Linked DNA regions of Homo sapiens: region 1 is reported to be linked to region 2. Evidence: microRNA targets listed by miRTarBase, many of them from high-throughput screens and not tested one by one. Region 2 holds a microRNA gene; the other region holds the end of a gene's coding sequence.
The links. Region 2 holds the annotated microRNA hsa-miR-183-3p (GUGAAUUACCGAAGGGCCAUAA, at 3,622-3,643, opposite strand). A microRNA usually pairs through its seed, bases 2 to 8, with sites in the 3' UTR of a target mRNA and lowers its output. Matches are read on the target gene's strand: a 7mer-m8 pairs with bases 2 to 8, a 7mer-A1 pairs with bases 2 to 7 and ends in A, and an 8mer does both.

Region 1 (5,373 bases), not on the chromosome of region 2:
AATTCACACTGGAGAGAAACCATACAAATGTAAAGAATGTGGCAAAGCCTTTCGCTGTAGTTCATACCTTACTAAACATAAGCGAATTCATACTGGAGAGAAACCTTATAAATGTAAAGAATGTGGAAAAGCTTTTAACCGTAGTTCATGCCTTACTCAACATCAGACAACTCATACAGGAGAAAAACTTTACAAATGTAAAGTATGTAGCAAATCTTATGCTCGTTCTTCAAATCTTATTATGCATCAGAGAGTTCATACTGGAGAGAAGCCTTATAAATGTAAAGAATGTGGCAAAGTCTTTAGCCGTAGTTCTTGCCTTACTCAACATCGGAAAATTCATACTGGAGAAAATCTTTACAAATGCAAAGTATGTGCTAAACCTTTTACTTGTTTCTCAAATCTTATTGTGCATGAGAGAATTCATACTGGAGAGAAACCCTATAAATGTAAAGAATGTGGCAAAGCCTTTCCTTATAGTTCACACCTTATTCGACATCATCGAATTCATACTGGAGAAAAACCATACAAATGTAAAGCATGTAGCAAATCTTTTAGTGACTCCTCAGGTCTTACTGTGCATCGGCGAACTCATACTGGAGAGAAACCCTATACATGTAAAGAATGTGGCAAAGCCTTTAGTTATAGTTCAGATGTTATTCAGCATCGGAGAATTCATACTGGCCAGAGACCCTACAAATGTGAAGAATGTGGCAAAGCCTTCAACTATAGGTCATACCTCACTACACATCAGAGAAGTCATACTGGAGAGAGACCCTACAAATGTGAAGAATGTGGCAAAGCCTTCAACTCTAGGTCATACCTCACTACACATCGGAGAAGACATACTGGAGAGAGACCCTACAAATGTGATGAATGTGGTAAAGCCTTCAGCTATAGGTCATACCTCACTACACATCGGAGAAGTCATAGTGGAGAGAGACCCTACAAATGTGAAGAATGTGGCAAAGCCTTTAACTCTAGGTCATACCTCATTGCACATCAGAGAAGTCATACTAGAGAAAAACTTTAAAAATGTAAAACATGGAGCAGATTTTTTACTTGTTACCCATGTCTTATTGTGCATCAGATAATTTATATGGGAGTGAAACCCTACAAATGTTAAGAATGTGGCATAACCTTTAACTATTTTCAAGCCTTACACAATAGCAGAGAATATAAACTGAAAAAATCCATACAAATATTAAAAATGTGGCAAATTATTTTAAACTGTGCTCAACCCTTACTCAAGATAATCCATACTAGAGAAACACTATAGATGTAAAAATGTGAAAAGTTTTATTCAAAATATCAAACTTATGAGTCACCTAGGGGTTCATAGAAAAAGGAAGTTTGCAGATGCAATAAATGTGAGGAAGTATTTAATAAAAAATGAAGTCTAAATGTGTCAGAGAATTTATGTGAGAAAGGACTAAAGCACAGACACTTTCAGCCTTTATACTAAATAAGAGTATTTTTTGTACAGAATAATCTAAAGGCAAAATAATTAGATAATTTATTTGCTTATATGTTTTAAAGTAGCAAGAACATTGATGTTTTGACAGGTATATTTCATAGATACTTCATTTGTATTTACAGTATTTGAGGTTTTTGGAAAGCAAATATTATTTATATAATTCAGCTTTCAAATCTGTTGCTGCTTTTCCTTAATCCGTGGTGTTCATGTGAAAATATGTGTTCTGTTTTTTTTTCTGCATCAGAACAATGTGAGGTCATTCTACGTTAATATCATTAATATCAGCATTTTTCATGGAAGTTTAATGCCAAATGTAAAACACATGAAAATTTTTAAAAATATGCTCTTTGTGTTTGAATAAAGTAGTAATGCATGTAAACATATACGTGTTTAGAGCTCTTTTCTATATTAAAGTAAGAGGGATATTCTGAATTTTTGAAATTACTTCAATTCCTCCATAAGTTTTTTTTTTTTTTTTTTTTTAAAAAGACTTCATTTAAAGCAGAGGTCCCCATTCCCAGGCTGTAGACCAGTTACTGGTCTGTGGCCTGTTAGAAACTGAGCTGCACCAGTAGGACATGAGTGGTGGGTGAGCAAGCATTACCACCTGAGCTCTGCCTCCTCTCAGATGAGTGGTGGCATTAGATTTTCATAAACCCTATTGTGAACTATGCATGTGAGGGATCTAGGTTGTGTGCTCCTTAGGAGACTCCAACTAATGCCTGATGACCTGAGGCAGAACATTTTCATCCCAAAACCATCTCTCTCCTTGCCAGTTTGTAGAAAAATTGTCTTCCATGAAACCAATCCCTGGTGCCAAAAAGGTTAGGACCACTGAGTTGAAGTACTAACATATCTTTAAAACAGAATAAAGTAGGAGTCTTTAGTATTATTTGATGTGATAGAATACATAGTGAAAAAGTTGAGTATTTGATGTGATGAGAATAACATCTTCACCTGTATCAGGGAAATGTGAAGATAATTCCTATCAACATTCACTAAATAATTAGCCTCACTTTAAAAAAACGTAGAAAACAGAACTGCAAGATTAGTATATTGGAAAAAAAGAATGCTTCTTGAGTACTTGTAACTGTATTTTGACCAGGAAGAATATAGTGGATTTTAAAATGCTGTAGACTATGGGTGAACTTAATTTCTTTTAATAAAATGAGTTGGTTTTTCATGTTTTAACACTGATGTACAATGAATGAAATGTTGTACTGACACCAGTGTTAAACTATTCCATCTTATCTAAGATTGTGGTTAACAGATGGAAATAATATACTATGGGTTAACAGTGAAATGTCTTCCCTAATATTCCTTTTGCTGGAGGACTTAAACTTTCAATAATTTGGAGAATAGTTTTCTCATAGTGACTATCTTAATAATGATTAGATAAGGCAGGTAAGATTGAAAGGCCACAACTTAGCAGCAAATGTTTTACATTCATTTGAGAGCCAGTTTGTAAGTAGTTCACCAAAAGATGTTGGGTTAAAGCAGTGGTTTGAATTAATTGCATAGCATTCATATAACAGAATACAACTCAGCCTAAAGCTCACACCCTATATGAATCTCATAGACCTCGTAAGTGAAAAAAGGTAGACATAAAATTGTGTTTTGTATATTTATGTATTGTATTATTTCAGGCAAAATAAACCTATGGTGAAATAAACACATTGATAGCCTCTGGCTGAGGAAGAAAAGATAGGTGCCTGGGACAAAACACGAGTGAATTTTCTGAAGATGATGAAAATGTTCTGTTTCTAAACTAGGTGAAGGTCGTAAGGGTTTATTTGTCAAAAATTTACAACTAGAGTTTGCGTCAGCCCATTGGTGCTGCAGAGTCTGTTTCCTTTGGGTTGGGACCTCATTCCTTTGAGTTGGGACTTCACCTCATTCAAGTCCTGGCAGAGTCACTAGAAGAGATGTGATGATCTTGTCCCAGACCCCAAGAGTGGGTTCTTGAATCTCACACAGGAAAGAATTCTTGGTGAGTTGCAGAGTGTAGTAAAGTTTATTAGAGACTACTCAGTTACAGAGTAGGGCATCCTCAGAAAGCAGGAAGAGGAATGCCTTGCAATGAGAAGAGATAGTTTATTGAAAGCTCCTCTGTTAGAGTAGGCCTTCCTCAGAAAGCAAGAGGAGAAATGCACCCATTTCAAATGGTTATATAGGTTATTAAGAATGGTATACTTTATTACAGAGGATTCTAATCAGCTTATGACAGGCTATTAGTATTGTTACTTTTCTATGTTACTATTGATTTCAGCAAGAATTTATGAGTACTATTTTTAAAGCAAAACATACTTAAACTAATAATGCTTTTTCTTAAAGTACTGGGACATTTTCTTAAGTTTTGAGTTCTTATTTAGTTGATTAACATCATTAACTCAGTGTTTCAACCATAAACATCTTGTGACCAAGAGTGCCCAGCCCCCTCGGAAAGTAATCCAGCAGGTTTGGCATTTTTTTTTTTTTTTTCTTGAGACAGAGTCTCGCTGAGTTGCCCAGGCTGGACTGCAGTGGTGCAATCTCGGCTCACTGCAATCACCGCCTCTTGGGCGTAAGCCATTCTCCTGCCTCAGCCTCCCGAGTAGCCGGGATTACAGGTGCCCGCCACCACACCCGGCTAATTTATATATTTTTAGTAGAGACAGGGTTTCACCATGTTGGCCAGGCTGTTTTTGAATCTCTGACCTCAGCTGATCTGCCCACTTCAGCCTCCCAAAGTGTTGGGATTACAGGTGCGAGCCACTGTGCCCGGCCATAGGTTTGGCTTTACCTGGCCTTTATTCAAGATAGGGCCTCTAGTTAGGATACTTCTGGCAGAATTAGCATGATTGTTATCTGAGAGTGGTCTATCACACTGCAGTGAGGAAGGGTGTTGAACAGCGACTAAGGTGTAATGGCTGCTCATTTGGCTACAGAGGTCCAGCTAGCAGCAAAAGTATAATGACTTGAGTAGGAATTACAGTTAGGAAAAGGATTTTTAAAGAGCTCTATAGTCCAAAGTTGACTTAATAAAAACTGATATTTACTCTACGTACATACACATATGCATGGTTTTAAGATCTCCTCTCTCTGTAAAAGTCAAATGAATTCTGTTTCTCCATTTACTTCTGTCTGTCCTTCCTCTTGCCACTCCAAATGCCACATGAGGGGAACGCCCCCCAAAAAAAGAATTCTAACAGAATTCTAGCCTAGAATCACAGAAAACAGAAAAGTTGTCACAGTCTCCTCCTCTTGGGAGGAAACTGCTTTTTCTCATGAGGCCCTCAGAGTTGTAAGCAGAGAGATCCCTCTCAGGTCTAACACTCTGCTCTTTCTTGTATTGCATTACTTGATCTCCTTGGCTTTGGGGGATACCAGAGATTACATTGTACTATGAGAGAACTTGACTAGGTGGATGTAATTGCTGGTGAGTCACTGGCAAGAGCTATGGTGTTAGAGGGCTGACAGCAGTCGCTTACAGTAAATGTTTATTACTCTAGGGAGTTGCTTATTTCTTTGGGTGTTTGGATAGAAAAAGTATGGTTTAGAATGTAGAGGCTACAGAAACAGCCCCCAAGCCACCCCACCGAGGGGTAAGACACCCATGTGGGATGCAGTAATCATAGTGTGTGCTGGCATAGGATTGCCTACCAACCTCAAATGAATGTCCCTCTACTGAGGTGCACTATGGAATCATTGAACTGCCCAGTCCTCTGGCATGGCATTTCTTTTGGGGGCTCAGAATTCAATGTAAAAATGGGATTCTTGATTTGGGAGAATCTAAGTGTTATGCCTTCCAGCTGCTCCTGCTTTGCACATATTTAAATATTAAGCCCTAAAAACTGCATGCTTCCTTTGCTTTATTTATTAAGTGGCTCCACCCTGAAGCCAGTAATCTAAAAAAC
Region 2 (5,373 bases):
ACCCTTTGAGGGCTGGCTGCGATCTGATTCTCGGAGTGGCATTTCCCCAGACCGCCAGTCACTTACCCAAGGGCAGCACACTTCCGTGTTCCCACTTCCCCTGATGAGGCCAGGTCCTTTCCCAAGGGGTGTTGAAGTGTCCTGAAGGCATCTCAAGCCTTTAGCAAGGGTGCAGGCTGCCTGCCCCCAACCCTGCATCCCCATGCCTCCCCTGCAGCCTGGAAGGGACTCTTTGCCCTCAAGCCTCCTGGGCAGTATGGGCCCACCATGAGCAGGCTCATTTTCCGAACATGCCCCGGCTGGGGGAGCAGCTGACTTGGCAGGGCCCCCAAAATGACACCGCTGCCGCCGCCACCGCCACCACCCCTCCCATCCTGCCTGCCCTTTAGGGTGGAGTGAGATGGGATGATGGCTTAAGATGCAAACAGATCCAGGCCATCCCCAGGGCCAAGTCCAGGACCTCGGTGGCACCCAGACCGGACCGGCAGCCTGGGCTTGGGCGCTGGGGAGGACACCTCTGCCCGAAAGGAGAGGCTTGGTGGGGAAGGTTTGGCCTCTGAGCAGAGGCACGACTCTGGAAGCCTCTCCGAGGGTGGGCGGGCCTGCTTTGGGACATCAGCAGCACTGGGCTCTCTTGGTCCCATGGAGCCCCCAAGCCTGGGACTTGCTGAGGAGGCCACTCCCACCCTCCTCCAGTGTGTATGTGGGGGGTCCTGTCCTCCTCCCCACCCAGCTGTGGCCGCACCAGCCGGGCTCCATCGGCAGCCTGGGGCTGCAGGCGATCAATGGTGCCGGATCGCATTTCGACCCGCCTGAGGCTGGGCAGAGGCTGGGATAATGGCCTGGAATGAATAAGCAAATGGAGTGGTGGGGGAGGCGGGGAGTCTGGAAAACCCACTCATACAGCCCTCCAGGGAGCTGCCCCTCCTGCCGCTCCACGCACCCAGACAGGCCAAGCAAGGTGCCCGACATGGGGGACGCCCTAAACCCGGGCATCTGGGAGCCGCTGCTTTTGACAAACAGAAAAACAAAGCAAAAAGTGCTTCTCAGTGACCCTCCCGCTCCAGCAAGAAAGGCCTTCGCTGCAGTGGGACAGCGTTCCTGCCTGACACTGGACACCATTGGACAGATCATGGGCAGAACCTTTTGCCCATCTCACAGACCTTCTGGAAGCCACACAAGGGAGGATCCAGGACCTGTTCTGCAGGGTGGGGAGGTGAAGAGGGGCCCTCTCCTATCCTAAGTGCCCCCAGCCTGGGTGGTAGGAAATTGTGTCTTTAGGGAGGAGGGCCAGCTGTGGTGGCCCCCACTCTCTGGGACAGTCACTGTTGTGGGTGAACTCACCACCCAGGTCTGGCCCGGAACTAGGTAAATTAGGAGATCTAGAAACTAGCTTTGGCCTGAGGTCCTCCCCTGGAGCGCTGGAGCAGGGCCCCAGAGCAGCCGGGCCTGAAGCCTGGTGGAGGCACGCCCCCACACCAGTGCCTGCACTCGGGGCTCAGCAAAGGCGCCCACCTGGGCAGGTGTGAGGAGGTGGAGCCCAGCTGCAGACCACCCAGGGGCTGAGGGCAGCTTCTGTCATCCGGCCTTCCCCGCTAGGCAGGAAGGAGCAGAACCCTGGCCAGACACTCCAGAGGCTCCAGGGAAAAGCTCTAGAACCGGTCACTGCCAGGGGCCTTCCACCCCCCCTTGCTGGGTCTCTGTGCCCACCCCACCTCCAGGGCTCATTCTCACTCAGGCCGGGAAATCCCTTCTTTCCTATCCCATGGGACCTGCAGCAGGACGCCCTAAGGAAGCACCCGGGGCGGAGGACTGGAGCACAGAGACAGGGTGCGGCACAGGCCAGCCAGGTTCCGAGGGGCAGAGGGAGAGCTGGGGCCATCAGAAGAGAGACCTAGCTACAGGGACACCTCACCAGGGCAGAAGTCCCCTTCTATCCTGAAATAAACAAGCCCCTCCTTTTTTCTGCAGGGGCTTGGAGAGCTTCTGTAGAGAAACACGGGCACCACACCCCAGAGGGAATTTATTGGGGGCTCCTCGCGGTTTGGTGATAGCTAACTGACAAGAAAAAAAAGGCCCAACCCACCCAAGGCAGTCCCCAGGGCACCCAGGCAGGCAGCACTGGTCACCATGTTCCTGCTGTGCAGTCAACTGGACCCGTCATCCTCCAGCTGCCAGCTTCAACCACACACATCCCCCACCCGGGCACTCCCTGGCTCAGACACCTAAAATGACTCCCACTGATCTGGGCTAAGTCCACCAACCCTTGCCTGAGGCTCCCTGGGGAGAAGCAGCCCCATCAGGGGCTGGCCCAGTGACCTGGGGCATGATAGCTCCCAGCTGGTCCCAAGTCGGCCACTGGTCTCCTGCTTGATTGCTGACCACCAGATTTCACATGGGTCCAGCCTGGCTGGCCAGGCTCTCCCCAGCTTTGACAGACTAGGTCCAGGCCTCCCAGCCTCAGTCTCTGCCATCTGGGGCATCCTTGGGAGCCCAGGCCTGTAGATTCAGAGCTGAGACACCTCCAGGCCCTGGGTGCCTCCATGGAAGGTGTGGCTGGTGGCGGAAGAGCCACAGTGACCCAGCTCTACCACTCACCAACCTCTTCAGCCAAGCCTTTCCTCTCAAAGCCTCAGGTTCCCCATCTATGAGATAACTATTTTAAAAAATTACAAGCCCCACAGGGCTGAGGTGGGAACTGTTGGGATTATATATGTAATGTCACCTGACACCCAGATGGAGAGCATAGGCCAGTTAGTCATAGCCCAGATCCAGGGACCCAGGAAGCTACATTACCAGTGTGTGGTGTGTGAAGGGGAACATTGGCCTCTGCTCCAGAACCTTCTAGGGGCAGGCCTGAAAATGCCCTCCAACTCCGAGCCCCACTAAGTATCCTCCTCTTGGAGCTGTTCGGAGATGACCCACTCCACAGCAGGCTACAGCTCCAGAGACGGTAGCCCCCCTGGAAACACCCAGGCTGACCTCAAGGGCAGCCCACCTGCCTGGAGCTGCCCCCTTCACAACCTGCAGCAGAAAAGACCAGGCCCTGTGCTGCCAGCCAAGGTCTCACCCCAAGCGTGTGCTGGGAGCCTGGCTGGGCCTTTCCAACCCACGGCACCATTCAGGATGGCCCTACAGATGGTTTCAGACTCCCCCACCTCTGCCCTGGGCGGCCCCATCTGCTGGCCCAGCTCAGATTGCTGGGCTCCCAGCTCTACCGTGGCCCCAGGCAGTGTAAGGCGATCTGGCTGCCCACCAGCGCTGGGCCCTCACACAGCAGCTGAGCCAGATGGGCTGGGGAGGCGGTGAGGAGGCCTTGAGGAGGAGCAGGCTGGGGCCCTGACACAAGGATGCAGGGGAGGCGGACGCAGCTGCGGGTCCTGCTTTTCCCATATTGGCACTGCACATGATTGCTCAGAGCGGAGAGACACAAGCAAAAATGTGCTAGTGCCAAAATCGGCCAAGCAGATGGCACTGGTGCGGGCTCTCTGGGGACACACTGGACGAGGGGCCTTGCATCCCTGCACCCTTGGAAGCAGCCTGTTTCCGACGTCTAGGAGCACTCAAGGCAGAAGTGGGTAAGGTGCTCCGGAGGCCCTCGTGGATCTGTCTCTGCTCTGTTTATGGCCCTTCGGTAATTCACTGACTGAGACTGTTCACAGTGAATTCTACCAGTGCCATACACAGAACAGGAGTCACACTCTGCGGCCTGCCGACCCTGCGGAGAGACCAGCGGCCCACGATGCCCGTTCCCTGCTCCTAGCCTGCCCACTCCCTTGGGGGCCCCCCAGCAGGCCCTCAGCAGCGGCTGCTACGGTCTCTACCCCCCACCCCATCCCACCTCTTCACAAGATCCACATGCCCCATCAGCCCAAGATGACCTTCAAGGAGACAGGGACAGTGCGGGAGAGGAGCTGACCTTCTGGCCTTGCAGAGGAGAAGACCACACCAAGGTGTCTCCTATCTCCACCTGAAGGCCCACATCCCTCCACATCACCCAGACTGCGCCTCCAGGCTGGGGAGGGAGTGGGTCAGGACCATCCATCTCCTTGCCAGAGTAACTCTGGCTCGGAGAGGCAAGCAGCTGGCCAGAGCCTCCTCTCTACCCAACCTGCCACAGGGGCAGTGACCAGTGGGACATCCAAGATGCCTCTCGTAGCCTCTGAGCCCAGACACCAGCAGCCCAGGCTCCTAGGCACTTTGGTCTCCATTATCCTCCACCCCCCAGCCTGCCCTGTGGCAGAAACAGAGCCCCAGGAACAAACCGAATCTGCTGCTCACCCCCACTCCCATCCCAAACCAGACCAGATTGGGCCAGACTGTGAACCGCCCAGGCTGGGCATCTCTGCTGCCGGCCTAGGATCAAGGCAGGAAAAGGCCAGGAAAGGAGGGCAGAAGAGAAGTCCTGCAGCCACCCAGGTGGCTTGGAGGGAGCCGGAGGCACGGATGCACTCTAGCAAGGGAGTGGCTCCTGGCTGGCTCTGGAGTGACTGCGGAGGAAAGCGGAGGCTCAGGAGCGAGGGAGGGGCTGGGAAGGTTGCATCAGTGGTTGCCAGAGCAGCTGCCTAGAGAGAAGTTGCTGTGGAGGCCCTGCCTCTGGTGTCACAGGCCCTGGGGAAGGACGGGAAGAAGGGAGAGGGTGGGAGGGAGGGTCTCTGGGGAGCTGGCACCCAGGGCAGGCAAGCTGGGGCCTCCGCAGAGTGGCCACTAGAGTCTCAGCCTACTCCAGGTCAGCGGTGGCCCAGAAGGCAGGGTGGCTAGAAAATATCCTGGAAGGGTCAGAGCAGGTGCCCTGGCCCAGAAACTATGCAGACCTCTTGGCGATGTTACCCCCAGGAACTACCTCCCGTGGACCTCAGAGCTCCATCTGGGTACCTTGGCCAAAGCCATCCGCTCTCCCCTAGACACTGCTTAATGCTCCACCCTTCCTGCTCCCGAGGACTCTTTGTCCTGCTCCCACACACCCCCACTACAGGGCTCTGCCCTTCTAGCTGGTCTATCTCCCCAGAGGACAATCCAGCTTGATGAGGTGGTGATCTCAGGAAGTCACTCCTCAGCCTTCTGCCTCAGTTTCCCTTACTACAATTTTCTGAACTCTACTAAGGAAGAGAGACCAGACTTCCCAGCCTTGGGTGGGGAGGGGAAGGGGTGATGGCAGGGTGTTAGCAAAGAGTATGGGGTGGGTAGTTATGAACATTGCTTAGGGTGTAGCCATAAGCATCACCCAAGGAGCCTGTTGAAATGTAGATTCTTGAGCCTGCCTGGAAATCTGCATTTTAATAGCACCCTGACAGCTCAGCATGGGGTGGGGGTGGGGGTGGGAAGATCTATTTTGAGAAATCTTTCCCAAGAAGCCTCACCCTGGGATAATTA

Region 1: miRTarBase lists ZNF267 as a target of hsa-miR-183-3p. Seed matches in the 3' UTR shown: 7mer-m8 at 1,635-1,641.

The regions. Positions count from the first base shown.
Region 1 is chr16:31,915,449-31,920,821 of GRCh38, forward strand. ZNF267 (zinc finger protein 267) reads left to right here. Exons shown (of 4, transcript NM_003414.6): 4 at 1-1,909. The coding sequence ends at 1,033. Among named protein-coding and RNA genes, the nearest start is that of ZNF267, 44 kb to the left of the region's middle.
Region 2 is chr7:129,771,307-129,776,679 of GRCh38, forward strand. It overlaps MIR183 (microRNA 183), which reads right to left and starts at 3,708; the gene lies at 3,599-3,708. MIR96 (microRNA 96) reads right to left here and starts at 3,463; the gene lies at 3,386-3,463. RefSeq lists enhancers at 1-200, 1,927-2,788.